Regions from separate parts of the Homo sapiens genome. Here regions 1, 3 and 4 are each linked to region 2. The links come from fine-mapping of genetic effects on gene expression. A gene starts in region 2. Each other region holds a variant in brackets. All regions are shown on one strand. Distances are from middle to middle. Region 1 overlaps NAV3 (neuron navigator 3). Region 2 holds the start of NAV3 (neuron navigator 3). Region 3 overlaps NAV3 (neuron navigator 3). Region 4 overlaps NAV3 (neuron navigator 3).

Region 1 (8,112 bases), 180 kb before region 2:
CAGAATAATTTATATTAGATAGGAAGTTAGGCTAATAGGAAATCTATTAACTTCCAGAATCCACATTATATTTATAGAACTCTGAACACCCAGTGTGTGACAAAGAGTACTATGAAGCATTTATTGAAGTCTCAGAAGGAATAAGTACTGACCTAGAATTGAGAAAAAAAGTCACCATCAGCCATCAATCTTCCCATTATATAAAAGTTATTTAATTATATTTACATATCATATATATATGTATCTGTATACATTTATATAATTTATACTAATTAACAGCAATTACCATTTTCAATTATAAATGAGTTCTGATTGAGAATTTTGCAAGTGTACTATTGGCATTTTCCTAACCAGAATTTTCTCAGTAACAATACCTCTTATTTCTGTCACATAGATAGAACTGATAAGCAAAGCAAATTTCTACTAGCTTTATGATCTGAAGAGATTATTACTATTCTGACTTAATATCTCTGCTTCTTCATTTCTGGAAAATGGGGGATGACATTTTTTCTCATGAGTTCATGATGAAGTTTAAATGAGAAAATTCACATATATTTTGTGACACAAAGATTTTCACTAAGTAAGCACTCAACAAATGATAATACCAACATCAAAAAGTAAATTATTAGTCTTATCTCATCAAATGATTAGCAACTCCAAAAATAATTGTCAGGGATTTTATAGGAGGGATTCTTACATGGGGATAGAACAGTGAAAGTCAGAAAGAACATAAAAGGTTACATAATCCAAATGTCATGACTCTATAAACAAGCTTTTACTGAAAGCTGAAAAGAATGAATATTAACCACTCTGCCTTTTGAGGATTTACATATTATTTGTAAAATTGTTCTGCATTGATTTAAAAACTTTGAATGAATATTACTTTATATATAGACTTCAATGTGAAATTTTATGAGACAGTTTTAATTTATTTATTTATTGTAGAAACAGGGTCTTGCTCTGGTGTACAGGCTGGTCTCAAAGTCCTGGCCTCAAGTCATCCTCCCACCTTGGCCTCCCAAAATGCTGGGATTACAGGCATGAGCCACCATGCCAACCATAGTTTCATTTATTTTTAGCTATCTTATATTGTTGATAATAATAAAAATAATTACTGATATTCATGTAATTTGCTCAAAATCTGGCTGTGTGCTAAAAATTTTACATGGGATTATTTTCTTTAATCTTTCATACAATCAATCGAGGTAGGCATCCTTTATCAATCATACTTTATAGGATTAGAAAGTGAAGTTTAGGGAAGGCTGTTTACTATGTGGCAGATACTGTTCTACAGATAAATATCAACTCAATCTTCAAAATAGGCTAATGAGGTAGCTTCTACAATTATCATACCTATTTCACAGATTAGGAAATTGTGGGTCAGAATCTTTACATATATGACCCAAAGTAACACAACTGATCAGTGGTGGCATTGAGATTCCCACCTAGGCAACCACCACCACAAGATGCTGTTTCTGAACAATGGTAGAGTAAGACATATTCTATCGCCCTTTTTTTCTCTTTTTTTTTTTTTTTTTTTTTTTTTTGAGTTTCCCTCTTGTTACCCAGGCTGCAGTGCAAATGCACGATCTCAGCTCACTGCAACCTCTGCCACCTCCTGGGTTCAAGCGATTCTCCTCCTGCTTCAGCCTCTCTAATGCCTCTTTTCTTAGCTACTTGGCTACACTGCCTCACTTTTATAGTCTTGTTGTTAAAGAGGTCAAACAGAAACTCAAAGAGTTTCTCAAAGAACTCATCAGGTTCACACAGCGGATCCACACTGTAACTTCTAAGCTGTGCTGCTGTGCTGCTTCCTGTTTTTGATATTTAAAAGTTACATTTTCAAATGGAAACCACTAAATTTGTTTCCACTGGATATTTTATTGCAAACAATTTTTTTAAAAGCTTGTTGCTACTTATAGAAAGAAGCCTACTAAATTAGCAGTTCTAGATTTACACTTTCCTATGAAATTCACTTGTGATTTTTTGAAAGGATTGATGTTTTTACAGAATATATTTGTAATCCAAAAGTGTGCTGAGTATGACATATTTAAAACTTCATGATTTTTTTTCTCACGTTTTTGAAATGTGGATCATGATTTTGACATCTTAAATTCTGCTTTGTCAAACAGGGACCCTGGAGTCAGAAGGAGCTGCAGACTCCCATCTGATCCAAATACAAGTATTTTAAATGAGTTAGTACTATTGAAGTCAGAATAGCAACATTCAATTGTAATGTCCCAAGAGCTTAAATGTAATAATTATAATAATTTTGTTTTGCTGAGTGTATAAAAAACCTCAGAAAAAAAGCACTTACATTCCTCATTGAGCAAAAAAATAAATCAGTATAAACTGCTTTATTTTAAAAACTTTTACATTCAAAAAATTTAATAAAATTTTAAACTATATAGTTTTGACCCTTTCTTAATTATAGTGGGTCCTGCTTCCTATTCATAAAATTTTCTTTCTGTAGTTAAATTGCCAACCTGCCCGAAAGAGGGACAAAGCAGACATTATTGCTCCCCAGGCCATCTCCTTACCAACCAAGCAGTGAATAAACTGGGGACACAGCAGTTACTGACATATCTCTAATCGATTAAAACAAATCACAGAACAACAAGCAAAGTGTTGTCTTTACCATTTGGATGGTAGGATGCATATTTTAAAATGCATAATAATGCATTTAAAAATTTTATATTGTGTATTTCAATGCCTACAAAATAAGAATGCAAAGTAAAATAAACAATAAATAAATAAAAGGTAAAAAAAAAACAAATCAGTAATACAACCCAAATAAGTAATACAAATTATATATGTAACCCCTTTTACCTAGAAACCTATGCCTTGCTGTGGGAAATTAATATAAAATTTACACTGAGAAAGTAATATCTTATAAATAACATTTGAAGAACATTTGCAACACATCAGGATATACAGTAAACATGTTATATGCATGACCTCTGTTAATAGTCTCAACTCTACAAAGTAGTGCATGGTTCCTATTTGACAGCTGAAGAAAATGAGACTAAAGAATGTTAAGTAACTTTCCCAATGTCTTATAGCTGAAAAGTGGCAGAACTAGGAATGAAATCCGCAACTTTATCATTTCAGAGGCTGCCTCTTTAACCATTATGGTATACTTTCTCCCAAAGATGACAACAAAAATAACCGTAAACGATGTAAAAGTGAGAATTATTTTAAAAGTCTGCCGCTAGTAATAGAAGCAGTATAGTAGTAGCAATAATATGAATAAACACAAGAGAAAGTTGTGGCATCTGGTTTCTAGCTGGCTTTTGATAACAAGTAATTCAATTTTTGAAGGTCTCAATTGCTGACAGGGAATGAGAGAGGGAATAAAACTAGATCCTACTGGAAGTCTTTTTCCAGACTAAGATTCCGCACTGAATTCTAGGCCTCTATCTTTAGCATGAAACTTTACTCCAAAATGACGACATAAAGCACCACTTTATCAGCCTTCCCTATTACACTCTGAGTATGTAGGCCTGTAAATATATTTACAACTGTGGATAAACAGAGGCCACCTTACCTGTAAATGAATGGTGCCACTGTCGCGGTATTCGGGTGGCTATGTTGCTGCTGTTGAGGGAGTTGGACAGCACCATTTCCTGTGCTCTGCCCACTGCTTTGTGCCACTGTCATGGTACAGGAACCAGAAGGAGAAGCTTGGCCAGCTTCCCTTCCTTCCAAAGGGGCAGGACAACTAGAAGCACTTGCTTTCTCCATGGTTATAGGCTTAGATAAGGACTGGGAAGGGCTCCCCTTGGTAGTCCTGAATTTCTCAGACTCTTTGCTTGCTGTGCTGCCAGGTGAAATGGTTTGCTTTACTGTTGGAACTTTAGAGCCTGGTTTTGGAATACCACTGGAAGA[C/T]GGAATTAAGCTTTCCTTCTTAGCTGCTGTTGTCTTGCTGCCCTTAGGGATCAAGCTTGCAATTTTGGAGGTCTTTTTTGGAGCCATCTCTGTCACCTGATCCTTCTCTTCTTTGACTGGTTTTTCAGTGCAAACTTTATTTTTGTCCCTGTTCTTTTCTTCTTTTTCCTTTGGCTGTAGCAAAGACTTTTTATTGCTGAGATTTTTGCTTCCAGCTTTTGGAGGGGCCAACTTAGGTGACACTTTGGGACTGCTATTTGTTGAGCCACCACTATTCAGACCACTGTTAAAACCTTCCATTTCACCAGATTCAGAAAAGGCATCATCATCCTTCCCACCATCACTAGGTCCTGAACTGGGAGGCTGCGGGGGGCGTAAAGCAGTCCGGGCATTGACTAGCTTGAATTTCTCAAGCATGGATTTCTGTCCTGAGGGAGCAGTTTTGACCCCTTCTGAGACAGGTGGCTTCAGTCTGTCTGAAGATGGTGTGGGGGAGGTGGCTGTACTTGACTGCTTTACAGTCAACATGGTGGAGGTGGCACTGTGTTTGACATTCATGGACTTGCTGCGCCAGGGCTTGCTGGCACTTGGAGAAGGGATGGCAGAGGCAGGAGGCTGCCCAGCAGTACTGGGAGGCTGCACGTTACCATTTACACCTGAAGACGATTGAGGTCCTTTGGAGGAATCTGGACATTGTTTAGAAGAAAAATAAAGAAAAGGCGATTAATCTTGATCATTTATATTACATAATTGAGAACTTCCAAACTATTGATGGATAGAAGTCTCTCTCCTCTGAACTGAAAAGAGACTGCAGCATCAATCACTTCTCTGATGTGATTTTTTTTTACCATATTTCAAAAATGCAGAGTGTTTGAGAGGCATTGATTCTGGGGTGGGGGCTGTGGGGGGACGTGTTTATTTTCCCCTCTGAAATTACTCTTACCCAAATAAATTTGCTAGTCACAGATATCCAAAGATGAACAAAACACTATCCCTCCTCTAAGCAATTCTCTTTGTTATTTTCCAACCACCACTGTAGCCCATGCTAGTAAATGGATATTCCACCTTGCCCTATAAAAATATGTTGTATAATGCTTGAACTCGGGAAGCAGAGGTTGCAGTGAGCTGAGATCTCACTGCTGCCCTCCAGCCTGGATGACAGAGCAAGACTCTCTCTCAAAAAAAAAAGTTATTTATGATATTTCGCTTTATTCTATAATGAATATAATATGAATAATTATTACAAATATAATTATGCTAACTGACATTTTATTGAAGGTTCTCTAACTGCATTATTTCACAACAGCCCATTGAAGTGGGAAGGGCTCATATTCCTAATTCCCATTTGTAGAAACCAGAGCTTAGTAAGCTTCATTCAATGATTTAGGTATCTAATGAGGAGTGTATGGTGGAGCTAGGCTTTGACCCCACATCTTGTCACTCTACAGCCCAAGCTCTATAATTTTCTTGGAATGTCAAACATTCTAAGTGTTTACCACAGTCATTCTCAAAACTTTAATGTGCACACATGATACTTGGGGATCCTGTTAAATGCACATGTGATACAGCAGGTCTGCAGTGGGCCCTGAGGTTCTGCATTGCCAACAATCTTCTGAATGATGCCGTTGCTGCTCACACACAAGTCATACTTTGAGTAGCAAGGGTTGAGTAGACTCACAAATTCTGAAAACTGTTGGCCTTTTCAGTTTTAAAGGGCTGTTTCTTAACACAGTCCCCCAAATTGCTAAATTCATTAAATGTTTCATAGCTATGCAATATTAACATTTTTTACTGAACTTTCAGAACCTTGGCTAGCTCTGAGTTCACCTGGATGTTTAGCAGTTTGCTTCAAATAATCTCTAAAACCAAAATAAACTCTTCAGGTTCCCCTAATGTCATTTTTTCTCATCTCTTTGTCCACATACTTGTTATGTATCTTCTGTGCATCTACAACTAGGTTAAGAAGTAAGAGTGTGCCTGGGAGCTTCGGTGGGGTTGATCGGAGAGGGTAGAAAAGAACCAGTCAGGATGCTTTTTTAACTGGCTGATGAACAAGGGACATAAGAGAAGGTGCTCTTTCCTTAGAAAAGAGAAACAAGTTGAAGACATTAGCTAGAAGACTGCTATAGAAGTTCAAGTACAGAAGAGGAATTTCAACATCACTGCACCCAAAACTGAAACAAGAGGGACTCTGAATTATGACATCCACATCCAACCCACAGTAATAGTCATAACAGCAGCTGTAACATCATTCTCAGGCGAGTACACACATATAAGATACTTCCTGAAGCTCCGCTCTAAATCTGTCCACAGCCTGTCCCTATACAGAGGCAATGAGATGCTTCAGATTTCATTAAGAGGGCAAATCATAGGTTGTTGTGCATCAGGAAGGCACTGGAATAATAAGAGTCTCTCTGGACTCCTCACAGTAAAGATTGCACAACAGCAGCTGAAATGGCAGCACCTGTAGTTTCTACAGAATGAATGTAGTCACAAATTATAATCGTTGCCATTTATATATTCAGGAATAAGTAGCCTGGTCTCAATGACATATTTCTGAATGTTGATTACTCAACTTCTGACTATGAATGAATCTCAGCATGGGGAAAATAACAGATTTCTAATGCACATATTTAAAGGCATTCCAAAAATGGATTTGTATCTTGCATTTTTATGGGCTATCTCTGCTTACAGCCTTACCTCTTGTCTATGGTCCCCAAATAGCAATTTGCTTCCACTCCCTGTCTTCTGCTTCCTCTTCTTATACCTCACCTACACTCACCATTGCCAACTCCACCATAACCAAATAATATTATTCATCTACTGCTTACTTTATTCCAAGTACATAATAAGTACTTCATACATGGTATCTCATTTAAACCCATAATAATCTACAATATGCTTATGATCTCTCTTGTTAAAAATGAGAAAATGAAAACTTAGAAAGATAATTTGTTTTCAATCATACATATGGCAAAACTTAGAAAAAACAAAATCTAAATTGGAACTCATTTTTATCTGACTCAAACATTTGGAAGATTTTCACTGTCTCTTCTTTCCACATGTTTACTGCATGCCAGAAATTCTGCTGAAATGGCTCTCCAGCAAGCCACATTTATCGCACAGTCAAGTTAATTGGGTAACTCCTTGTTTTCCTTCTTCCTTGGTGAGCAGGATATAAATGGGGAGAACATCACACAAGACACTTTATTCAGGTATTATATACCTTCTTCTTTAGCATCTTACTTGCACCTGTTCCTCTGAGTTGATGTGAGAATAGATATTCGTTCACACTTGCAAAACATCTAAATTCACAGAACTAATGTCTAGTTATCTCATCTTGTAAATAAACAATATTGATGACTTGGGAACAATGCCAACCAAGTTCTAAAATTAATACATGGATGTAAATGTGGCAGTCACAACAGGCATATGGAAAGTTTATAGTGGGACATTTCTCTCTGGAACCTCAGTTAGCTGTAGAGTTAGCACCATGTTACCAAGAGTGGTATCAGTCTGAGAAAGGACATAGAGATGATTCTTAATCGCTTATCTCTTTTTCCTCACTGAATAGTGCGTTGCTTTGACAAAAGTAAACTAGGTTCCAACTCTGAAATATAATAAGTGACAACAAAAATGATGACAAAAGCACCATTCATTTCTGAAGTATTTCCTGCATGGCAGGCATTGTGCTCATTGATATAGATGGTCCCTGCTGAATATAGGATACTTTAAGCATCACAGATCGTGGTGGAAAGAGGAAAATGATTAAACAATGTGGCTATGCCACTTATTTTGATAAATAATTAGGACTTTAATTCCACAACAACATACCAAATGCTTTAAAAAAATTAAGTTGAAGAAAAGTGGCAGTCAAATCTAAATATGTCTTGGTATTAAGTGGATCCTCATGCACCTCCTCACACTGCTTTGCATAAATAATTGCTCGTGTATTGCCTCAGTCATCAATTTTATAGTGACTCAAAAGAAACATGGGGTGGAGTTTTATAGGGATCCTAGAAGAGCTGTTCATTCTGCACATGCTTATATTGTACCTTTGCAATATTAGAGTGCCACTCTGTGGAGAGTTGTACAATTTAGAGAAGCTTACATTCACTCACCAGCCAGTATGTAATTTATGTACAGGCATATATACTTTGTGGACACCTCAATATTTGTGCATGTATGCATAAACCAACAACACATATGGCCAAGTCTATTTAG
Region 2 (8,112 bases):
AGAAATTGGGACACCCAGGAAGAAGACATCTGGGATGTAGCAGCTAGATGGAGCTATGACGGAAATAGAGAAAGTGACAACTGGGAGACAAGAATGCCTGAATGAAGACATTATAAGATATGAGAAGCAAATAAAGTTTTCTTCTTAAGCAGGATGGTGAATATGCTGCATGGATGTGGGTAGAGAGACACAGGAGGAGACGATACCAATTTGGAATCACTGAAATAATTGATAGGAAACTTTAAAGGCCATCAAAGGATGAGCAATTGCAGAAGAAGATAAACCCAAGCTATAATACTGAAGTAAAATTCTCAACTTCTGGCAAGTTATGGGATGTGAAATGGTGATGTACTTTACCAGATATTAGTCTAGGAATTCGGGATTAGATGACTGGAATGATGGCATTTGCACTAATTGAAACAACAGGTGAAGGGAGTGACAACTGAACACACATTTCTGACACTGTCATATGTAAATTTGTTCTCTCAAACCAGATCATAAAACTGTTTGGTACAAGGACTAGCAGAGTACCCCACATAAATGTTTCTTAATGACAGTCGTCTATTGTGGGTACTATCAATAGTATCTTTTCCTAGAAATTGAACCCATAATTCTTAGCTGAGCACATGGCTGCCTAGAACAAATACTACATTTTTCAGTCTCCATTGGAGCAAGGTAAGGCCTTGGAACTATAACGAGGCCAGTGTGGAAGAATATTTAATAAAACAGGGTGTATCTTTTTAATTAAGTGGAGTGCAATTATCTACTCAAGACTATGAGGTGTGAGCCACAAATCGATGATGGCAACCAAAATAGAGCCTGGTTCCCTGACAACTTCCTGAAGTCTCCCTACCAGCCATACATGGACTGCTCAACTCCAGATTTCCTTTACATGAAAATGAAATAAACGTCTATCTTCTTTATGCTATTGTTATGTTGACTTTTCTGCTTTTGCAGCCAAGTCTAATTCTCTCTAATATAACTACCTTGTTCGATTTTGCTATTTACTTCAGTTCTGGGTTTTTTTTTTTTTCCCAAAAGCTAAAATAACTCTACATATACTTCTTTTTAACATTTAGAAATATTCTGAACTGCTGACCAGGCATTCTTTACATTTGTTTGAAAACATTTTTAATCTGATAAGTGGCATGGTGAAAACATCCCTATAAATACAACTTTGCTTACCACAGAGGCTTATTGGGATATCAGATGTTTGATTAATATGTTTGCTAACCAAAGAGATCAACCAAAATTATATTGAAAACAGTGCTTATAGTGCTCAAATCCTAGGCCAAGGTCATTTAGCAAAGTGGAAGTTTCACTAAACCTACAGAAAAGATAGCCATGGTCAGCAGAGACAGTGTCTCTCTCTATTCTTGCCATTGAATCCATACAGACTTGTGGATACACAGAAGATTAGAATGGAATTTTATGGCATTTCTTTTAATTATTTGCAAAAAGATAAATATTTTTAGTATTTTGTTGATAATTTATGTTTCCCTGCTTTTTACTCTGAATTGTTCACTTTGAACTGAGAACTATAAACCCATAAAAAATATTTTATTTTAACTGATTTTTCTCACATGGACAATGCTATGTTAGACATAGAACTCCACAAATCATCCATTCCCAACCCCTTGTTTTATACATAAAATTGATACAGGAAGGGGGCAGGGAAGTGCTGTGTAGAGAAAGATGGGGTCCCTGGCTAGGGCTCCACCCCTGGGCCTGTGCCCATGGACCTAGTGAGGACAGGCATTTATGTTTTCATGCCCAAATGTTGCATTGTCTAAGACCACCCTGGCCCACCACCTCCCCATTCTGTGCCTATAAAAACCCCGAGACCTTAGCAGGCAGAGACAAAAATGGCTGGACATCGAGAGGAACACACTGGCGGAAGAACACACAAGCGGCTGGACGTCGAAAGGAACACATAAGCGGCTGGACGTCGAAAGGAACACACCAGCAGAAGAGGACACCGACAGGCACCTGCAGACACCGGCAGGCCATCGACTGCAGAACGACATGGACCCGAGGGGAATCTAGCCAGGGAGGTCAGAGGAGAGTCTGGCTGCTGGGCGGCCCAACTCCAGAGGAAAATCACCTTTCCGCCTTATGGCTCCCCATCCATCTGCTGAGAGGTACTTCCAACATTCAAAAGAACCTTGCACTCATCCTCCAAGCCCACATGTGACTCGATTTTTCCGGAACCAAGGCGAGAACCCAGAATACAGAAAGCCCTCTGCCCTTGCAATAAGGCAGAGGGTCTAACTGAGCTGATTAACACAAGCCACCTTCATACTGCAAAACTAAAAGAACACACTGTAACACACGCCCACTGGAGCTTCAGGAGCTGTAAATACTCAACCCTAGATGCTGCTGTAGGGTCGAAGCTCCACACCCTGCCCATCTGCATGATCCCTCTAGAGGTTTCAGCAGCGGGGCATTGAAGACGTAAGCCACTCCTGCTGTCACATGCCCTGTGAGGGGGACAAGGAAACATTTCCTGTTTCGAAATGATTCCAAAAGATGAACAAACTTAACTGAATCCTTCTCGGAATAACTATTTATTCATTCATTGATTCATTAATTGCTGTATTCATTCATCCAACTACTATTTAATTCTTATCATGCATAAAGCATTGTACAGGGAGAGAGCTGGAACACAGGATAAGATACGAGACCTGCCTTCTATATGTTTTCAACTTAGTGGAGATACAAATAAATTATCCAGATAATTAAAAGAAATTATCCAGATAATTAAAATACACAAGCATTTCTACAGAAAAAGAATTGGGAAGGAGGAATGGTGGGGAAGGGATAGCTAGCAAAGACTTTATGAATAAAGTTGGATCTGGGATAAAGCTTAAAGGATCTGAACAGGTGAAGGTGGGATGGGCATTGTAGAAAAAGGAGTGGCTTTCTTTTTCACTTCTAGAGTTGATTTTTGTATAAAGGTTTTTTCCTTAAATTATTTTAAACTAACATTTGGATAGCAGAGTAAAATGAAAATATTTCCTAAGAAGCCAGAGACGAGGCTGTGACTTTGGAAAGCTTGACATCATAGTTAATGCTGCATTAAAAAGTGATGCTGAGTAGAATGATGGTTACCAGAGGCTGGAAAGGGTAGTGGCGAGGGGTAGGGGGAGTGTGGATCGTTAATGAGTACAAAAATACATTTAGATAGAATGAATAAGATCTAGTATTTGATAGCACTATAGGATGATTACTGTCAACAATAACTTATTCTATATTTTTAAATAACTAAAAGAATATATAATGTTTGCAACACAAAGACATGATAAATGCTTAAGGCAACAGATACTCCATTTACCCTGATATGATTATTACACATTGTATGCCTGTATCAGAATCTCTCATGAACCACATAAATATATACACCAATATGTACCCATAAATATATACACCTAATATGTACCAATAAAAGTAAAAATGCACAAAACAAAAGTGACGCTTATCAAGGTACAAATGAATCCGCATGAAGTTCAGCAGCTTCAGTGCCATTCTAGCATGCGTGACTGGAGAAAACGGTTGTAGTATGCTTTAGAAACCAAGGGCTATGAGCAACTACTCACAAAATATCATAAATTAAATGACTGAAAAAGATGTCAGTAATAAGTAAAAGAGTAGCGTTTCAGTTTACAAGGGAAAGTCCATATAAATGTGCAGTATCAAGGAAAATAGTATGTCATTTTCCTTCATACTGCAATGAATTAAGCAGCCTATGATACAAATTTTCAAGCAGAAATTCTTTGAAATGCAAATGACATTTAGAGAAAAGTGATGGTGTCTATATGAATTATTACAAATAAATGTCTTTTTGAAAGTACCTATTTTCATACATTGCAGTATGGATGACAATAGGTTCTCTTTTTCTCACATTTGTGACTGATTATGATTATTAGTAATAGAGCAATATCTAGAACTAACTAGGCATTCATCAATAAGTAGTATTAAATGATTACAATAGATGCATATTCAGAAAATTTTGATCATGACTTTTACAACTCTAAACTAAGAATACAGTGTTTACATAAGCTAAATATTCAGCTTTTCAGCCATTATAACTACTTACATCCTTACACTGGTATTCCTCTACTACTCCCCATTTCATAACATGTTTTATAGTGCACTTAAAGAGAAATGTGCATTTTAGCTACACAAGTCTGCAGGTAACTTCAGCAACTAACCTTGCTGTCTTCTTTCTCCTTGGCTTTTCCTTGGAGGGGTTTCTTCTCTCCAAATTCACAGGTTGATTTTAACGCAAGCTGACAAGAAAGCATGGAGCTCTCTGTTTCAGTAAGTTCCAAAGGTCTTGAAGAACAGTGCTGTGACCCAGTAGTGCCAAGATTTGGTATCGGAAGAGCAGTATGCACAGGCTTTGACCCAACAGCTGGCTGCCTCAGTTTTGAGGCAACCCCAAGAACAGGCATGGCTTCTATAAAATTATCTTCTTGCTGCCAAAGAAAATGCTTCTAACCTCAGTCTGGTAGACTCCAACTTTAGTATTTCCAGAACAAATACTTTAAACAAAACTAGCAGTCATCCTGATTTTTAAAAAGCTAATAATATAATTTTCAGGAAGAGGCAAAACTTCCCTGCATCTTTAGTTAAGTATCTTTTCTTTCTTGCTGGCTGGGATTCATATTCATTCTCATTCTCTCTCTCTCTCTCTTTCTCTCTCTCTCTCTCTCTCTCTGTCTCTCTCTCTCTCTCTCTCTCTCTGTCTCTCTCTCTCTCTCTGTTCAGTGACTCAGTATCTAAGTAATACTAAATACTCCTTTGGGGAGTAAACTCTTCTTCAAGGTAACTGCTACAAAGCTCCTTCTTAGGATTAAAGAGCTCTTAGTTTTGCTTATTTTTTTTTCTCACTAAAGCAGTCTGAGTCTGAACTTTGAGATTGAAAAAGAGGAAAAAATCAAAAGGAAAAGCCCTTCAGTCCAACTGTCAGAGCAGCCAAAAGACCACAACAGTGGAAGGACAGGGGTTCTTCCTGATTTCAGAAATAGCCAGCCTGCATTCTCTTTTTAAAGAAAATTGTATTTCCCCCAGCTCAGAAAAAATAAAAAGAATGGACATGTTAATGGCCAAAACAAACAGCTGTTGGAAGAACTTTTAGCCCGGAAACAATCTCAGCAATAAAGTTGTTTGTCTGATTTCCAGCTATTTTTCACTACTGACAGCCATGAGCCACGATGTTCATTCTGTTGCATCCCATGAAATCAGGCTAAAATCATGCAATAGTGCAACTAGCTAAAGCAGTTAAATCATTCATCGGACCATAGCTGCCTAGGTTATGAAAATAGAGTAAACACAGGAAGCAGGGCACTAAATATGTAGTAATCATTGTTCCCAAATTTAATAAGTCATGATTATAAAAACATTCAAAGCTAACACTTATGTGGAATGTATTACAAAGCAGTTATGGAGCTAAGCATTTTATGCATTATCACATTTAATCATTGGAATGACTCAAAGTATAGGCATATTTATTTTCTTCACTTTATAGAAAGAACAGCTATGACTTGGAGACACTGAAAAAATTGACTAAAATGATGAAGCTAGAAAGGGGGAAAGAATGTATGATTTTAGTTTGTAAACCTGTCTTTTAAAATGGTTGAAAATAACACTGTTATTCAAGCTTATGACGTCCAACTTAAAATCCCAAGCTTCTAAAAACTGTCCAAACAGATACTCAGTGAGAATGAATGATGATGCTTCCATCCATAGAATTATTTTAATATAATCATAGCATGTTCTATTTCTGGTTAAAGCATGTCAGGAACTTTAAATAAACAAGGGGTAAACTTTTAAGAAAACATCTAATGTACCATGCATTATTGTTCTGAAACTGATTGCACTCAGAAAATGGATACAGAGAGCAATTATATACACCAAATATAAAAATTAGTAATAATGCAACCAAAGGTCTTAGAAAAATGAGTGGTGGACACTTAGTATAGACACAATGAATCATGGAAATTATTAAATCGTAACCATTTTTTATAGAAAATGTCTTTCTTTAGTGAAGAAATGGTCATCTTTGGCCTACTGTTTCCAGGTCTTTAAATCACTACGTACTTTTATCTAAGAAGCAGTAATTTATAGATGAAAGAGCCAATAACTAAAAGTATATGTTCTGCTGATGCAGCATAGAAGACAGGAAATGTAAGTTAGAAGTCTTGCAGGCTTTAAAAATAGTAACCCAAGTGGGCTTTACACAGCGGGGTAATACAAAACAAATACAACACTAGTGGTATCAAAGAAATGAAATAATCTCTCTGAGGAAGTAAGTTATTTTGCAATTTGCAAACCATTCAACACATTATAACTTTCAGAAACTATAAGGTAATACAGAGTTGGAGAGGTTCATGTTCGTAAAATGAGGTTTAGTTCATAATAAGACATATGCAACTTGTAATCCTCACAATGCAAAACAAAACAGCACCTAAATAATAGAACTTGTGGGAAAAATTGATTCTAGGAAGTTCACTCAAAACATATGCAACTTTGGGAGTATATTGCTAGCAAAAATAATATTGGCACCTCAGAAAATAATTTGGACCACTCAAGGAAGTGACTCAGAATTACATAAAAAAATAATTGGGTATAAATGCTGGCAACACTTTAACCAGAATTGGTGGAAGAAATCCGGTTGGAAGGCAAACTCCAAGCCAGTAGGCTTGCCATTGAAATGGGTACAGGGTCAGGGCAACTGCAAATATTTAAGAGCTGCACAAGGCCAGGGGCATGCCCCTTTGAAGAGGAAGCCCCAGATGCAGGCATTCATTTTTGTTTTTGTTTTTAGTTTTCTTAAAACTGAGCCAAAAGGGCTCCTGCTGACTATACAACATTCAAACTGAGGGCTTCTTTGCCCACCCAAGGTTATAATTCTACGCTGACTATTCTGCTTCCCTTTGCCTAGAATAAATTGTATATAAAGCTACACAACTTCTGCATTATACTAGTACAAAATTCCTGTTTGCCAATTACAAATGAGCTCATTGGTATTTTGGAAACATGCATTGGAGGAGAATGTATCGTAATTCCTGGAACAATTAGATTGAAAAAAAAGGATTCACATTCAATAAGATGTCTTTTCACTTTGAAATACCTTTTGCATATTAGGCAATATCTTTCACTCTGACTGAAATATAAGATGGTATTAGTAGCCACTGTCAACTAATTTTTTGCAGTAATATCTACCACCAAAAGCAACAAAACCAAACTAACTTACTATAAAAAATGTGCTTTGTGCCAGGAGTTGTCATCTCAATTTATCTTAAAAGAACCACACCGTTTTGAGACCTAGGAGACAAAGGCACCGAGAAAGTAAAAAATTAGCTTACGGTCACTGATACCTTGTAGATGAAGTTCAAAATGAGGTTTTACAAACTGAGTTCAACAAACCAGATGTGATGGTGACCTGAGTGCTTACTAAAATATAGATGATTGTATTCATCTCGAACCCACTGTGTTAGTCCATTTGTGCTACTATAACAGAATATCTAAAACTGGGTAATTTATAAATAACAACAGATTTGCTTCTTACAGTTCTGGAGGCTGGGAAGCATAAGAGTGAGGGGCCCATATGTGGTGAGGGTCTTCTTGCTGCATCTACCCATGGTGGAAGGCAGAAGAGCAAGAGAGCACTCATATAAGAGAGACAGAAAGGGCCAAGCTCGCTTTTATAACGGATTATACTCTCATGATAATCCCACTTCCACAATAACATTAATCCATGTATGAAGTTAGTGTTCTCATGGCCTACTCACCTTTTAATGTCTCCATCTCTTAATACCATTCACAATGCCAACTAAATTTCAACATGAGTTTTTGGAGGGGATGCAAAACTCATGTTGAAACCATCACGAGGGAGAGGGAAAGGTCTGAGAGTCATATTTAAGCGAATTGATTCTTCTAAAAACTAGAATTTAAGATCTGTAAATTATAGGATTTGTAGTTTGATAGTTCAGACAATGGGCTGTAAAGTGGGACTGCTTAAAAGCAAATCTCTGCTTCCTTACTTCCTAGTTATATGAATTTGGAAGTTGCTGTGTCTCAGTTTCATCATCTATAAAATGGAGTAAA
Region 3 (8,112 bases), 200 kb before region 2:
GATCCCATACACGTTTTTAGGAGCAAATTGGACTTACCTAATAAGTCAGTGTAAAGTGCCTGTTCTAGATCACCCAGCATGGTAAGGATCACCTCCTCATCCAGATGAGCTGTCCCTTCCCGCAAACAGCTTTCTCCCTCCTCTTCAGCCCAGCTTCTGCTGATGCTGCTTGGCTTGGAGGACACGTTTTCATCTTCAGACCTACTATCTTCATCACTCTCACCTTCCAAGCCTCTTCTTGCAGACAATTCCTCTAAGTCTTCACTGTCTGACTGGCTGCCCCCAGCAGGCAGGAGGTTCCAGGCTGAGCTGCTGGTGTGATACAGGGACTGCACAGACCGCGAGAGAAACTTGGACAGTGAGCGCCGCTCTGCATAGTTGGCTTCTCTCTGGCTGGCCTTGGCAGCATTTCCAAACCAGTTGGAAATGCGCACCGTGGGTCTCCTCTCCCCATCACTGGTGAGGGAAAGATTGGTCAGAGACTTTTGTTTCTGAAGGCAAGCTCCCTTTCTCCTTACTTCTTTGCTCCGGAACACAGAGAGTTCAGCAGGCCGCTGCATGATTCTTCCAGTGGCTCCTTCCTTTCAATTGGACTTCATATTGTCTTGTTACACTGTGATTGTAACTGATCCATTTGATTTTGATTATCACATGCACTTCAATAAAAGCTCAAGCTCACACATTCACAGAAGATTCTAGAGATATAGTATATATAATTATTTGCCCCCAATTTAGCTTGACACATCACTTTACTAATCAGCAGTACTTACAAATATTTTGCTCGAATATATCTGAAGCAGAAAAGAGTTCACCAAAGACTCTCCTCCAGCTGAAAAGTAGTCCAGGAAGCCAACTACGTTTGCCCGTCTTCATCCAATCACATGTCTCAGCAGGAGGATGGGTCCACATTTCCCTCTGTTGCTTCTGTGTCCCGAAACGCCAGGAGGTGAAGCACGAGCTGAGGTCTCTTGCTTTTTGCTTTTTTTTTTCTTTCCCCTGCCTTTCACCAGCCCTTAACTGACCTAGGTCTGTAACCCTTTACTCTAACGAGCTGACACAGTGCAGCAAGTACAGCCTGCTCATAGGAGCCCAGGAAGAGCAGGAATTAAGCACTGACGCCCAGCCCTGCACAAGCCTCTTACATTTTAGTATTCCACCTGCATTCTCAGATCTATGGCTCTTCCTTGCTGCTGCAGTGGATGCTGCTGGCTGCCATGGCAGCAAACATCCTGCCAAATTAAAACAGAGGCACGGGAACGGCTGTCCAGCGTAGAATGCCACAGGTTTCTGAGCCAAGCCTGTACGAGATCTTCCACTATTAACCTTATGCACATTTAAATGACTCTCAGCCACCCAATCTCAAACACGGACACACACTCACACCCTCACATACACAACACACACTCCCCGATGCCGAGAATGACAGACTAATTCTCTGTAGCTGCAGGCAGCTGAAGCAGGCAGATCTCCCTTCTGAATGTTGGGATTTGTGCTGTAAAAGCACAAATCAAATTCAAGAGTGTAAAGGACCTAAAAAATGAAGCATGACACTCTCCACCCGCTAGGAGATAATGCTTTAAAGGGAAAGACTTCCCTAATCTTTTAAAGAACAAAGTCAAAGCCTTCTTATTTTGAATCCTAAAATCCTAATGTGATGATAAAGATTTCTTACAGCCTTTTTGTAAAAACAAAAAGGAAATAGAAAGAAAAAAATAACTCAAAAGGGTTTTCCCTTGATATTTTGACTCAAAGCTTAAAATTGAAAGTTTATGGTCAAGTGTGTGGAACATAATAATGTTACAGATAACACAAAATGCACATTGTGTCTTTTGATATTGCATTTTTCCAGGTCTATTTCATAAGCCTATCACAGCATAATCAGCTCTTATTTCTTAATGTTTTCATAAAAACAGAAAACCTAAAGATAATTTTCTTGTATTTACCTTGTACTGGTACGTACACTATACCACCACAAAATTCTGATTTTAGGACAACTTTAAAAAACAAATATATAGTATAGCAGAAATCATGGGTACCATTGACAGTTAAGAAGACTATCGACCTTTCAGTATTTAACTTCTGAAGATTTTCTGCTCACAAACAGAAAAATAGGGATTTCTCCTTTATCAAATGAGGGAAAATGGAGAAATATGCAGAGATATTATCTTCATCATTTTCAGAGCTAATGTGGCAAAATTAATTGTGATTTTCTACCTCCTATTGCCAATCTCAATAGAGGAAATACCCAATCTCATAACTATATATATTAGCATTATAATATGCATTGCCTATAACTTTACACATAATAACCACTTACTTTGTAAAGTTAATTATTCCTTATGCCCCACCTTTCAAGGTAGATCAGACTTAGACCCATTTTATAGATATGAAAAGGAAATTAGCTGGAAAGAACAGCAATTATTTGTGACAAAATTCTGCAATAAAGAAATCTGTGAATTATTGATACTCATTCTCAATTCTATACTTTTTAAATACTACTCGTTTATATAAAATGTGCTAAATAAAATTACAGTACAAATATCAGATAATTGAAACTGACAGTTATGCTCCTAAAAACACAATTTTGTAAAGTATTTTTTGGAAGACCAAAATGACACTCCCCTTAGAATTCCTAAGTAGAAAATCTTTTTTCTTTCATTTTGAGTTATTGTGACACAGTGAATTTCCAAGTCCTGAGACCATAGTGAAATTTGTTCAAATTATGAAATTTCAATGTATTTAACATTTGTTACACTAGTATATATGCTAATATACCCTAAAGCCTTACAGATTCACAAAAAATGCAATTCTAATGCTTTATATATCAAATGAGTTGACCTTATTCATCTGTAAATAAAAGCAATATTTATGCCCTTTCCTTATTCAAGACTGCTTATACATATACCAATCAGTTTAAACCTGTGGTTCTCAAGCTTCATATGTTCAGAACCACTCGGAGGGCTTATCAAAACACAGTTCGCTGTGCCCCAGCCACATAACTGCTCATTCAGTTGGACTCGGAGGGTCCTGGGACTTTGTATTTCTAACATATTTCCAGATACTGCTGGCTCTGAAAACCCCCTTTGAGAACTACTATGCTGAGATTAGTGGTTTTCAACTGGGGATGGTTTTTCCCCCAAGGGACATTTGGCAATATCTGGAAACATTTTTCGTTATCACAACTGTGGGTGTGGTGGTGACATCTAAGGGGAAGTGGCCAGTGATGTTGCTAAACATCCTACAATGATAAACCACCCCCATGCAAAAAAGAATTCTGCATTTCACAACGTCCACAGTGC[C/T]GAAGTTGGGAAATCCTGAATTAGATTGTTATATTGCATTTACAAATGGTTTAGAAACTTCAGTGGCATTCAATACAAAGATGTATTTTGCTGACATTAATGTCCACTCTGTTTGTTACAGCTCTCTCTCAGGTATTCTTTATTCTAACAACCATGCTACAAGAGCAATCCTAGTCTGGGACATGTTGATTTTATGACCAAAGGAAAAGAGAGGTGAGAGATCCAAGCAATGGCTCTTAAGTTTCTGCTCAGGAACATCCCATGTCATTTTTCCACTTGTATTTCATTTGTCAGATTAAATCACATGGTTCTTCCTGATTCAATGAGACAGGAAATTTAATCCTTCTGGAGGGGTGAACCCTGGAAAGGATGGGCTCAGTCCAATGGAGCCAGCAAGGAGGGGATTGTAGAGAAGGCTTATCAAAAGGGGGTTTCTGTCTCTTTGTTCAAAGATATTGTTATTAACTTGTGGTTACAGTAGGTTTGTCCCAGAACTACATCAGTCCACATTTACTCTGAGCGACAGTGGGGAACCCACTTATTCCTTCTCTGGAGAGCGCCATCCTGCTTGCTTTGGGGGTACATTCATATATGAATGTTTTTATATTTGTTTGTATTCACACATATAGATGTATGTTATACAAGGAAGAGGAGGAAGGTGCAGTGCAAAGGAGACAAATACACCCAGTCAGTAGGAAAAATGTGAATCATTCTAATTACGCCAAGACCTAAAATAAGTTATAGCTATTATAATGTGCTGGAAAGGAATGCTTTTCAGCTCTTTAGTAAACATAATTATAATGTGGCTATTTAAGTAAAAGACCTAAACTGATTTGAATTATCTGAGCTTGATCTTCTTGATCTTTATAAACATTCAAAAAAAAAAGGGCAATTTCAGTGATCATTTACAGAGATTGTAAATGTCAGATATTTCCCACTTTTAATACAAAGTCTGGTAGTCAGTAAAAGCACATGTAACCATTCGCTTATCCTTCTGGTTAACCTAAATTCTTCTATTTCTAAAATGGTTTCCTGAATTCAACCAATAATTTTAATATTACTTTTTTACAAATGACATGCCAGCTTTATTGATATTGAGCCAGTCCAGCACCTATGAACATTTTTCAGTTGAATATAAATTCCAGATAAAGGTTAAGAAGTGAATTAAACAAATGTGTTACATGTTGGTGGATAGTCTTATGCAAAAAAAAAGGGCAAGTGTGAACCTATAGAAGAAAAATTGAAAAACTTCCTTGAGTACCAGTGGGATGAAAATTTGGGCTCGCTTTACATTTGGCAGAATCACTTGGAAGATGATGAAAGGGATGGCCTCTGAGGACAAATTCTTTCTGTCAATGAATGTGAGAATAAAACTCAAGCCAAAGCAGTAAAATCTGTACCATTAATTCAGCCAGCACTGTAATATTGAGGTCATGATATGAATCTTAGAGGAAAGGCAGGAAGCAATAAGCTACTTCTTCAATGGCAGAAATTATATAATACATTTCACCTGACTATAATAATTATTGGAGCTACCATCATCAGATTGGGTAAATACAACTAGGTTTCTTCACAAAGAACATAATAAGCAAAAGCAAATTTAAGTGACGTACTTAAAAATTTTGGAGAGGTGCACTGAAGACTTATGAAGAATATTCAAATTGAAAAAGTCATTTATCCAGTATTCTACTTTATTGAGTGTCATGCATTTCTGATATTTATCTTCAAACCATAATTTATTACCTTTTTAAACTTTCATTACCATTTAATGGCAAAGACAATGTTTTTATAATGTCAAGTGAGTTACTGCATTGGTGAAAATTTAAACAGCTAAGCTCTCCAACTAACTTAGCAAATCCCTCTAACACATCTGCATTGCAATGTGAACCACTCAAGTTTGCTCTTTAATAGTATGGCAAATCTTTACATGTCATACATCCTGTGGGTCATGCAATAGGGATGATTTTCACATTTGTGTAAGCACAAAAAGACTTTTTTCTGGGTTACATAACTCAAAAGTAGAGGAGAAATAGTTTCAGACATGGATTTTTCAGGGGCTCAGTTATTTCCGACAATGGCCTTGAATTTGGTCTCTCCTGATTTAGGTTCTGTTTCCTCTATGTTTGTTTCATTTGAGGGTGGAGGTCACTGTTAGCAGGTCTAAGCTTCTCTTTTGTTAGTTTTAGGTGTAGTGGAAAAAGAGACCACTTCTCTTTTTTTTTATTATTATTATTTTTTTATTATACTTTAAGTTTTAGGGTACATGTGCACATTGTGCAGGTTAGTTACATATGTATACATGTGCCATGCTGGTGCGCTGCACCCACTAACTCGTCATCTAGCATTAGGTATATCTCCCATTGCTATCCCTCCCCCCTCCCCCCACCCCACCACAGTCGCCAGAGTGTGATATTCCCCTTCCTGTGTCCATGTGATCTCATTGTTCAATTCCCACCTATGAGTGAGAATATGCGGTGCTTGGTTTTTTGTTCTTGCAATAGTTTACTGAGAATGATGATTTCCAATTTCATCCATGTCCCTACAAAGGACATGAACTCATCATTTTTTATGGCTGCATAGTATTCCATGGTGTATATGTGCCACATTTTCTCTTATAACAACCTCAGGAAAAGTCCTGAGATTGAGTCTTATTTGTTCTGATCAAACTTGATTGGGTCACACATCCAGTCCTCAAACAGTCACTGCAGTCAATGAATAGATTGTTCTCATTGGCTCCACTTATATCAATTTCAGTTAGATCACATGAGCAGAGAATTCTCCCCAAAGAAAATCAAGGTGCTGTTATCAGAAGATGGGGCAATGGATACCAGACACACAAAACGACACCAGTACTTCCAGGTAGGCTTAATACACAGCAATAGAGCTTAAGCTATAGAACTCCTAACTCACCTAAACCCCTTTCTAGACACTATACATTTTATTTTCTGTACTATTTTCAGGACTCTGAATGTTATATAGACTTCACAAATTTATAAAGCCTGCATCTTACCCTGGCAAGACTAACTTCCTCAGAATTCTGTATCATGAAGGCCACTTCACTTGGGAAGCAGAATTATTCCTCACTGAGGCCCCTACAGCAACCATGAGCAATAAAAGTTCAACAATAACAATAGTGTTGAAGCTTGGGGTTGCAGAAAATCAGAGAACTATCGAAACCTCAGTAAGTTTAGGAGAAATGCCCAATTTTACAAAAAGAAACTAATGAAAAGAGTAAGTTAAGAAGAATTTGTTTCCCATTATTTTCATGTTATTCCACAATTTCATTGTTCATTAGAATTCTACAATATGCATGTCTGATCTTCTTTTAAGTTCTGCATGACTCTTTACAGCTAAGTTAGTTGTTTCCATGTGCCTATTTATTCATTTATTTGTGGTGTTAAATTTTATCTATTTGTTTCTTACTTTTTCAAAGGAGAGCTCACTTCTTAGTCACATTTGTTTTCCCAAATTTTGAGATGTCTGGCATGTGTAAGATGCCAGGTGATAATTACTGAAAAGACTGATGGAGGAATAATACCATACCTCACAACAATCTTCTGAGTTTATTAAGTATCATCATATTCACCACACAGAAAAGGGAACCAGGGAGCAATTCACAGTGCAGAGGCCAAATAATCGCTAAATAATTGCAGTGCTGAAGCCAAAATTTATTTTTTCCAATTCCTAGAACATTTCTCTTTCCACATTTCAAACAGTCTTGGAAGGGGTATTCTGTGGGCCAGTCTGAGCTAGGACCTGGCAATAAATTCAGGTGCTTAGTGCTTTGTGGTTTCACTAGCATCCAGAACTCAGAAAGATGAAAGCCAATAAAGGATGGAGATTCTGAGAAAGAGAGGCATCATTAATATAGAAAACATCTCATGAGCTTTAGAATTCTGAGAGGTTCATTCTTTTATAGGGTTATTCTATTACAGGCTTAATATCCCTTATCAGAAATGCTTGGGACCAGAAGTGTTTTGCATGTTGAATTTTTTCAGATTTTGGAATATTTGCCTATACATAATGAGATATCTTGGGGATGGGACCCAAGTCAAAATTCACCTATGTTTCATATGCATCTTATACACATAGCCTGAAGGTAATTCTATACATTTTTAAAAATTTTTTGCATGAAACAAAGTTTATGTGCATTGAACCATCAGAAATCAAAGGTGTCTCTATCTCAGTCACCTAACAGGATTGTACAATCTGTGGTTTTGTGGCATCACCATCATTCCTGACTGAATTTATATGCTACTAATAGGCAATTATTTTATTGCAATTATTTATACATAAGTACTTACCAATAAAAAATATGACATAGCATTAATGCAGTGAAAAAATAATGTGTTCAAGGTCACTAAGCAGCACAGTAGCATTGCCAGAATACCTGTATCAGCTATGAAACAACAGCAACCACAAACAACCACAAGCTTTCCATCTCTACATTCAATGCTGTATTTGGATTAAAAGGTTACTGTACACTGTATTTTTTTTTTAGGTGAGAAGAAACATCAGAAGCAGTTGAGGGACTGGGAAGTGGGCCCCTTAGGGATGAGGTGGCATTCTGCTGTGTAGCTTTTTAAAATGTTTACCCCAGAGTCATCTGCTTCATTAACAACAGTTTTTGTCTTAGAAATCTCTCTGATTTTTATCAACTGGCATAATTTATTGTTCTGTAATGAATGTACACTGCTCTAGTTCTTCACTAAGATCATCATGCATTTCTATCATGTTGTCTCTAGGCACTTTTTCTGCAGTGTTAACATTGTTATCTTCATCATTGCTATTATCACAGTCACCTGAATTCAGC
Region 4 (8,112 bases), 350 kb before region 2:
TGAGTTCTATTTTTCCTAGATACTAAGTTTTTTTTATATGTGTCTGTTTTTTCTAAACCACCTTCAGTATTAAACTTGCCTCCTTCAAACCTTATCATATTTTCATAAAATAAAACAGAATTTTATAAAAGGCAGTGAAACCCTACCATTAGTCTGACCTATAAGGTACTGGCCTTTGTCTTTTCCTAGGAGACAAGCCTGAGGATCCAGAAATGCACTGGTCATTATGAGATGTAGATCTTACTTCACTTCTCTGTCAGGTCCATCAGCAACAAGCCAACATAGAGGATGTTGTTCAGAACTGCCAGATTCTATACATTTAAACATTTGCGTTCTTTCTTTTGCAGAATATTTTGTTGAGTGTGGATAATACTTTATGTGTAATTTACAAACTCAAATTACCATCCACTTCCACAGTCTTATTTTACCTAATGATCTATAAGTTCATTTAATTCTGAAATCTCTTGCTTTTTACTTGGCTTCTGACATTAGTTGTACTTGATGCTTATTCTCAGAATTTATTTTCTTTCTCTAATCCCCACCAGAAGTTTACAAAAGTTGTTTTCTTAAATTACAGGGAGTGCCCACTTGTCTTTTACATATAAGATGAAGGCCATTATTTTATATTATGAAGAGCAGCCATAATAGCAGAATTTTTAACATTCTGTCTTTTTAGAAGAGATGTGATTCATTGGAAATGTAATCAATATCAGCATGCCATGTCATTTCCCTTCTCCTTCTCCTTCTGTATTTTAATATGATTTAAGGCAAGCAGTGTACTATCTCCATTCTATAATGGAATCTAACGTTGGCTAGGAACATACATATTATTGGTTTCCAAGCGTCATCTGGTGGCCGTGCTTCACAATTACCATAGATCCTCATGTAAATATTATATAGACTAAATTCTCTATCCTTGAAATGATTCTCTTGAATGAACTGTTCCACAGAAACAGCTACACTTTATGCTTGAATGGTTCATGAGATATTAAGATGACATTATGTCATATGATTCTATTTGCAATCAAATCAAAACTGTACCCTTGTTCCATCACTAGTACTGTGTTCTTTATCTTTGTTGGAAATTTAATAGAGCTGCAGACTGGGTGACAGTAGCATTATTGTTTTCTCAGAGCAGCATCACACAGGTTCATCAAGTCAGATTTAGAAAATAAAGCCTGCTACACTTATAAATGGGTTTTGCACACTTAATAAAAGTCATTGGGGTTATTATTATATCCATAAGTACTAATTATCATCACTGAGAGTATTTCTTCATCATCAGAATCATGGAGAAAGTACTTCCTAGGGAAAAGTGATTTCTTAAAAATATTATGAAGACCATATCTCTAAGACTGACTTTTGGACAGAGAATGTGCTTTTAAAATTATAACTAAGTAGACTAGATTTATAAGATCAAACTAGGACTATTTCTGAGAATTAGAGTGTAACATTTTTAAGAGTACGTAAAGTTCTCCAAATTCCAGGCTTCCCACCCGTTAACTCATGGGTATGCTGTGATTCAGGCAAGCATGTGCACTAAATCACCTGAGCTAACAGCCTCTGTGATGTTCAAATTGTTTAGAGAAAGTCCTAATGACTGCCTGGAAGATGAAGAGGAGGTGCTGCTTGAGGATTCTGACGGTGGCCGAGTAGGCTTAGCTGTGTTACCAGTTTCTGCCTTCAACCGGTCATTTTCAGCTTTCAGTATTTCAATTTCATTCTGTTATGAAGATGGAAAACATGAAAAAAACTGAGTTGGTTTGATTGAGAAAATAGCACCAAGTCTTTTATCAGAGTTAATTAGCTTGTTTGTTAAATAAAACATGTTAATATGTTAAATAAAGAAATATAAGATATGAAATAGGATTTCCTTCCCAAGAAGGAAATTTAACCTTTTTCTCTCTCACACATTATACATTCCTGAATTCACAAATATAGACAATCCAACCATTCGACATGCTTATCATTATTTTTTAACTAAATCATGAGGACTTGGTCTCATTTGAATTAAGAAAAATATGATGAAATCATTCATAACACTTCTCATTTTAAAGGTGATGTTAAAATCTTATAAGCATATAATGCCATTTGTAATATTGTTATAAATCTGTAGACAGTTGAAAGACAGAGCAAAACAAAAATAATGTCAATAAGGTGATTTAAAATTACTCCAAAATCATATCTAACATCTGAAAAAGTTTCTTTTTTTCCTTCCAATCGGGACACTAAGCTCATAAAAAAACAACAAAAGTCTTTAGATGAACATATACAGTGGCAGATGAATCTGCTCAGCAATGAGCTTTTCTTATTGCAGTCATCTGTGGTACCAAGTGATTACTGGTATACAATAATAAAATGAAAACTTAGTCTGAGCACAGACTGGTTCTGAATTTAGCCTTTAGATGTTTTTCAAAAAAATACACAAGCCTTACTTTTACAGATGGCATTCTAAATCACTTTTACTTCTGTATTCAGAAAGCTTGTGTTGAATTTCTATAGTTTCCTCATTACTTTTGTATTTCAGTAGAAAACTGGTGAAAGTATGTGAAAATCAGATTTCAAAAGAACAGGCAAAAAGCCAAAATAAAAGTAAATGATGGAAAAGTGAAGAAGCAAGAATTGTAGTAGCTTCTCTAAAAGCTTAGCTCTCAACCTGAATCCAATTACTAGTACAGTATCCTGAATGGTTCTTGAATACAACTTGCCAGTTTGCACTCCCACTTCCAAACTTGGATTTGACAAAATTCTCAATTCAGTACTAACAGATGAGTTGCAAAGACTGAATAAACAGAGTACATTTCTAAGGTGGGTTTCCAAGTGGAATTTATTCTGTGTTAACCAAGAGAACAGAATAAGCAGCATTTTTTTGTTTCTCCATTTTATTCCTTGAAAGTGCTTCAGTACCAACCTGCATCCGGTTCATGGCTTCCCGGATCTGATCAAGATGATGAGCAGAGCTGAGGGCCTCCAGCCGAATATCCGTTAATTTTAATTCCTTTTCTCTGAGCTCGCTCTTCAGCTGCAGAATTATCTCTGCCTCAGCTTCTGTGCATTCACAGATCCTGAAGAAGGAAACAAACAGAATCAGTGGCCTGGGGAAGCCAGAGGATTAAGAAAAGCACTGCCTCTTTTAAAGGCTGCACTGCAATATTCTCCAGCAGGTACAGATATGGTGTGCTGCTGGCAAAACCTAGAGAAAAGGAGAAGGAGTTTTACAAACGGTTATGCATTCACAGGTTCAAAACGGAAGTAGCTTTTTCTTTTAATCTTTTTTTCTATTTTTTAAAGTTTAAAAATAGTCTACTCTTACTGAATATAAAGTAATCCTAAAAATTCTTTTATTGGTGATATTTATAGGCAGAAAAGTCATAGATTACTACATTTCATTCCAACATTTTCAAGGGACTTAAACCTCTATTTGCAACATGTGACTATTCTTTTATAAGAGCAGTTATTACATTCTTAAAATGTTGATTTCTTCTTTTGTAAAATTGTGCAAAAAAAAAGCTTTGCCACAATACTGTCTTTAATTACCATAAAAATCCAATATAAACATTGTAGAAAATAAATTAGAGATATTACTTTTGGACATTTAAATAATGGGTGAGTTATATAACCTCCCTACTGGGCTCAGCTGATTTAGGAGATCACAGCTAAATCAAAGGTTTCAGCCCCTGTTAGCAGGCTAGCTGAGGGCTGTTTGAAGGAAACACATTGTATCCTTGTTGTGTTTTTATTGTTTTGTGGACAGCTTCGCAGGAAATTTGCCAAAAAAATTGTTTTATATTAACTAACATATTTTCCATTTAAAATTTGACAACTAGTTTACTGGCCACAAAATGACAGTGACATGTTCTTCCTTTCTGCATAAATGATAAAATTATGTAGGCAAAGCACAGTGGCCCTGTTCTATATGAGTTCTATGCTAGTTGTTGTCATGGGCATACAAGGAAATTAGATTTAAATAGTAAATAACACAGAGAATTATCTCACCAGAACACTTTTCTATATTCGAAATGTGTTCGTTCTTGTACAGTAGTCCCCCACAATTATAGTTTATCCACAATTTTAGTTTCTGTGGTTTAAGTTACCTACAGTCAAACATGGTCCAAAAATATTACAGTATTTTGGGCCAGGTGGGGTGGCTCGCACCTGTAATCCCAGTACTTTGGGAGGCCGAGGTGGGTGAATCACTTGAGGTCAGGAGTTCGAGACCAGCCTGGCCAACATGGTGAAACCCCATCTTTACTAAAAATACAAAAAATTAGCCAGGTGTGGTGGTGCACGCCTGTAAACCCAGCTACTCAGGAGGTTGAGACAGGAGAATCGCTTGAACCCATGAGGCAGAGGTTGCAGTGAACCGAGATCTTGACATCGCACTCGAGCTTGGGTGACAGAGTGAGACTTTGTTTCAAAAAAAAAAAAAAAAACACTATTTTGAGGAAGATAGAGACCACATTAATATAACTATTATCAGAAAATATTGTTGTAATTGTTCTATTATTGCTGTTAATCACTTATTGTGCCTAATTTTTAAATTAAATTTTATCATATGTAGGTATGCATGTATAGAAAAAAAAAACATAATATACATAGGGCTTGGTGCTATCTATGGTTTCAGGCATCCACTGGGGGTCTTGGAAAGTACCCCTGGTGGATAACGGGGGGCTACTGTACTACCAAAAAGTGGGCTATCATAAAAATGCTAGGTTAGATTAACTAATAGAATCAAAGAAAACTGGATTGCAGGTTGATTTTAGGAAACCAAATTTTAGTTGAAAAAACAGAAAGAGAAGGTATTTATTGTTGAAATGCATGTGAGTGATTTTAGAAAAAGCAAAAGCAAACACTACTTAGGTTAGAACCTGGATCTTTGCAGT[A/G]TTCATGCATCGCACTCCACTTTACCGAGATCTATGCTTGTAGATCACAGGGCCATTTTGTCGTTTCTTTGGTGGCCAGACAAGGGGTGACCTGTATGTACATACAGTTAGACAGATACATGGACAAATGCCCATGAAAAGAAGTGAGAATCATGATTCAGAAAACTGGAGAATGAGATCAAGAAACACTTGAATTCTAACATATGAAAATGAAAAAGAAAAATGAAAATGAAAGAAACCAGTGAAAGAGAAATATGAAAAGAGAAACTAATGCTGTCCATCATTCTCAGAAAAATCTGAAAATAATTGGTACAGATATGGTTAGAACATAAATAAGGCCTTCATCTAAAATTGTTTTTAAAAAATATGTCTGCATTTTGCAGAAGGAGCAACTTACGCTGAAGCAGATTGTGAGGGCTTCATGGATGCTGAGCCACAGTCACCAGCATTATGGGGTAACTTGGGGGATGCCGGAAGGGATGAATCAGTAAGCTCTTCAATGTCAGAATGTGATGAAGGAGGCTTGGTGGACTTTTTCTTCCCAAAGGCTTGTTTGAAAGAACTTCTCAGCTGAAACAAGGACAGAAATTACCCTTCTTGTCTATTTGCACTTGGAGAGCTTTTGCTTTGGGGCGTTAGTTTGCAGATGCCATCCTAGCCACTGCCTGGGGTCAGTATGTACAAGCAGAGTATTAACAATTGCAGCACAGTATCTCTAAAAAAAAAATGATACCGTGTTTTGTGTGTTCATTTTATTCTTGTATTAATCCAGCGCAGCGCAAACATGGAAGGCTTTTAAATAGTGCAAGGTCAAGGGCATGGCTGTCAGAGCACTCATTTAAAACTAAGTACCTTGAAGGGATCTCCATTCCCAATGCTTCTCTCTTCAAGGCAATTTGTTTTAAATGGCCACTTTAGCGCTACAATCAAGTCATGTCCTGCTGACAGTACAAACTTAAAAAGCAAAATGAAATCAAATTCACCTAACACTTCATTAATTGTGATTTTTCTATTCAAATTTTCCAACCCCAGACTACTCAAAACCAGAATTGGTATCCCCTACAGCTCTATTCAGAAAGTGGTTTTACATCTCTTTAAAATTTGAGATTAAAATGAAAAGACACAAAGAAAAGACATACAAGGTAATCTGTTTTAAAAGGTATAAAAGCCTACTGCCAAAATGGATAGCATTCATGCCAAGGTAGGGTTTTTTTATAGATGCATGCCAAATTGTCCACGGTTTATATTCACCTCACTTCCTCTAGAGTTCACCTTGCAGAAACATGAAAGAGTGTGGAATTACAAATCAAGGGAATGAAGGCTGATCAGTATTTTAAAATATTACCTGTATAAACATTTTTTAAGATAAAAAGATATTTCTTTCATTATTTGTAGAAAGCACTCCAGTAAAATCCTCTGATAATTATGTCTGGATTTCATCAAGAGTTGTATTTACTCAAAATCTACATTTTTTTTTTGGTATTAAAAGAAATCATTGACTCCATTGTTTTTAAATTTTTCGCAGTAACAGTATCTTCCCCTGGGCTATTTAGCTATTGATCAATATCATAAATTATATCACTAGCAAACTTAAGGTACAGTTCTGTTAAAGTGCATTTCTATATTTCTGCTATATTCTCTTGGTTAAAAACATCAAGCAGACACTAATGTGGTTGATTTCTTTTAGGGTGAAACTATTCACACGGTAAGCCCTGTCGATTCCAAAGGTGGAATGAGAGTTTCATTGTTTATTCTTTCCCTTTATTAACTCCCATTCTCCTTTTCCTCCAAGACCACTATCACCATCATCATCACCATCATCATCATTTTTTCACTTTTCCTTCATCTCTATGCCCACAATAAACCCCTATTTTAAGCCATTTATTCACAGATGTTATCTTATTTTTCTTTAGTATAACTCTATAGTTATACTACATAGTTTGTATAGTTATACTATAGAAAAATTAGATAACATCTGTGAATAAATGATATTCACAAATAAATATAGTTGCTATTAACTGTCTTTTTATTGGTTAGAAAATTCAGGCCCCTCAAAAGGTCTAGATATAGTGGTGATTCAAACCCAAGTTTAGTCCCAACATTAAAATGTATGCTTTTCAGTACATGCCACTCCAATTTTGGTGATGAGTGCAGCATTTGAGGTCTCAGTAGCTTGAATGGGACCCTTTGTAAACTACTGCAGATCACTAAAGCCCCAAAGAAAAAGGCCTAACACATTATGCATTAATAAGCTTCTGAATTAGATGAAGGATGGTAACTTACCCAGTTTTTCTTTTTCTTCTTCTTGGAGTCGGCATCATTACCACTGCCAATACTGGAATGGCTTGTGGCACTGTTGATACTAGAAACACTTTCAGAGGAATGCTGTCTTCTGATGCGAAGATCTAGCAATAGAGGGAGAGTATCACATCGGCTCATGAAGAGTCTCGATCTGAACAAATAAGTCTTTTAGGTCTTTTGAGAGGCAGTTCTCTAATAAAGGTCAACAAGGCTTTGTACAGATAATTTCAATGCAGTTTTGACTTTAGAAGTTTAATAAAGTACAACCATATTTGTTTTAATTAACTGAGTTATCTACATTAAGATTTAATGAGAATCTCATATAAGTCCATAGCCCTGGCAGTTTAATGAGTTCTCAGTTTTGTCTAAAATTAAATGCTATGCTAGTGATTTCTACTGAATACCTGGATCAAGCAGCTCTTCCAAAATGATTTATTCTGAATGATTAATTTAAAAGAGTAAATGGAAACTCAGAATGAGAATTAATTGTGCTTTTTAATATTTGTGCTTCAAATACAGTTACTAGAGCCAAATGTATTAACTTTCCATTTCATAGAATCATACCATATTAGAGCCAAAACAAAACCTGAAGTCATGTAAGCACATAATCTCACAGATGAGGAAACTGAAGTGAAAAGAAGTTAAGTAACTTGGCCAAAGTCAAACAGCCAATGAAAGGCAGATCCTCCAAAGAAAGCCTAGGTAGACTGAGTTTGTGAGTTAAACAGAGGACATATTTAAGACAGTGCAATTCTTCCAATGTACCCCTACTGCCTGCCCATGACTTATTATAGAATAGTAATAGTAATACCAATAACAAATAATAATCAAACTAGGTTTTACAATATGCTTGATATGCCCCCGGAGTACCTAATTTTATTCTTAAAGCAAACTACTGAAATGAGTTTAATTACTAAATGTAACTTTC

What was found. PIP is the estimated chance that this variant, and not a neighbour inherited with it, causes the effect.
Region 1: its variant is fine-mapped to the expression of NAV3 in whole blood (TOPMed, PIP above 0.99).
Region 3: its variant is fine-mapped to the expression of NAV3 in whole blood (TOPMed, PIP above 0.99).
Region 4: its variant is fine-mapped to the expression of NAV3 in spinal cord (GTEx, PIP above 0.99).

The regions. Positions count from the first base shown.
Region 1 is chr12:78,002,881-78,010,992 of GRCh38, reverse strand. It overlaps NAV3 (neuron navigator 3), which reads right to left. Exons shown (of 40, transcript NM_001024383.2): 8 at 3,548-4,574. Among named protein-coding and RNA genes, the nearest start is that of NAV3, 180 kb to the right of the region's middle. The variant C/T (reference allele first, on the strand shown) is at 3,889.
Region 2 is chr12:77,827,804-77,835,915 of GRCh38, reverse strand. NAV3 (neuron navigator 3) reads right to left here and starts at 5,022. Exons shown (of 40, transcript NM_001024383.2): 1 at 4,212-5,022. The coding sequence starts at 4,454.
Region 3 is chr12:78,029,312-78,037,423 of GRCh38, reverse strand. The region is part of intron 9 of NAV3 (neuron navigator 3); the gene reads right to left. Among named protein-coding and RNA genes, the nearest start is that of NAV3, 200 kb to the right of the region's middle. The variant C/T (reference allele first, on the strand shown) is at 3,300.
Region 4 is chr12:78,174,482-78,182,593 of GRCh38, reverse strand. NAV3 (neuron navigator 3) reads right to left here. Exons shown (of 40, transcript NM_001024383.2): 25 at 7,167-7,288; 26 at 6,135-6,155; 27 at 5,281-5,453; 28 at 4,909-4,974; 29 at 2,912-3,065; 30 at 1,549-1,723. Among named protein-coding and RNA genes, the nearest start is that of LINC02424, 180 kb to the left of the region's middle. The variant A/G (reference allele first, on the strand shown) is at 4,884.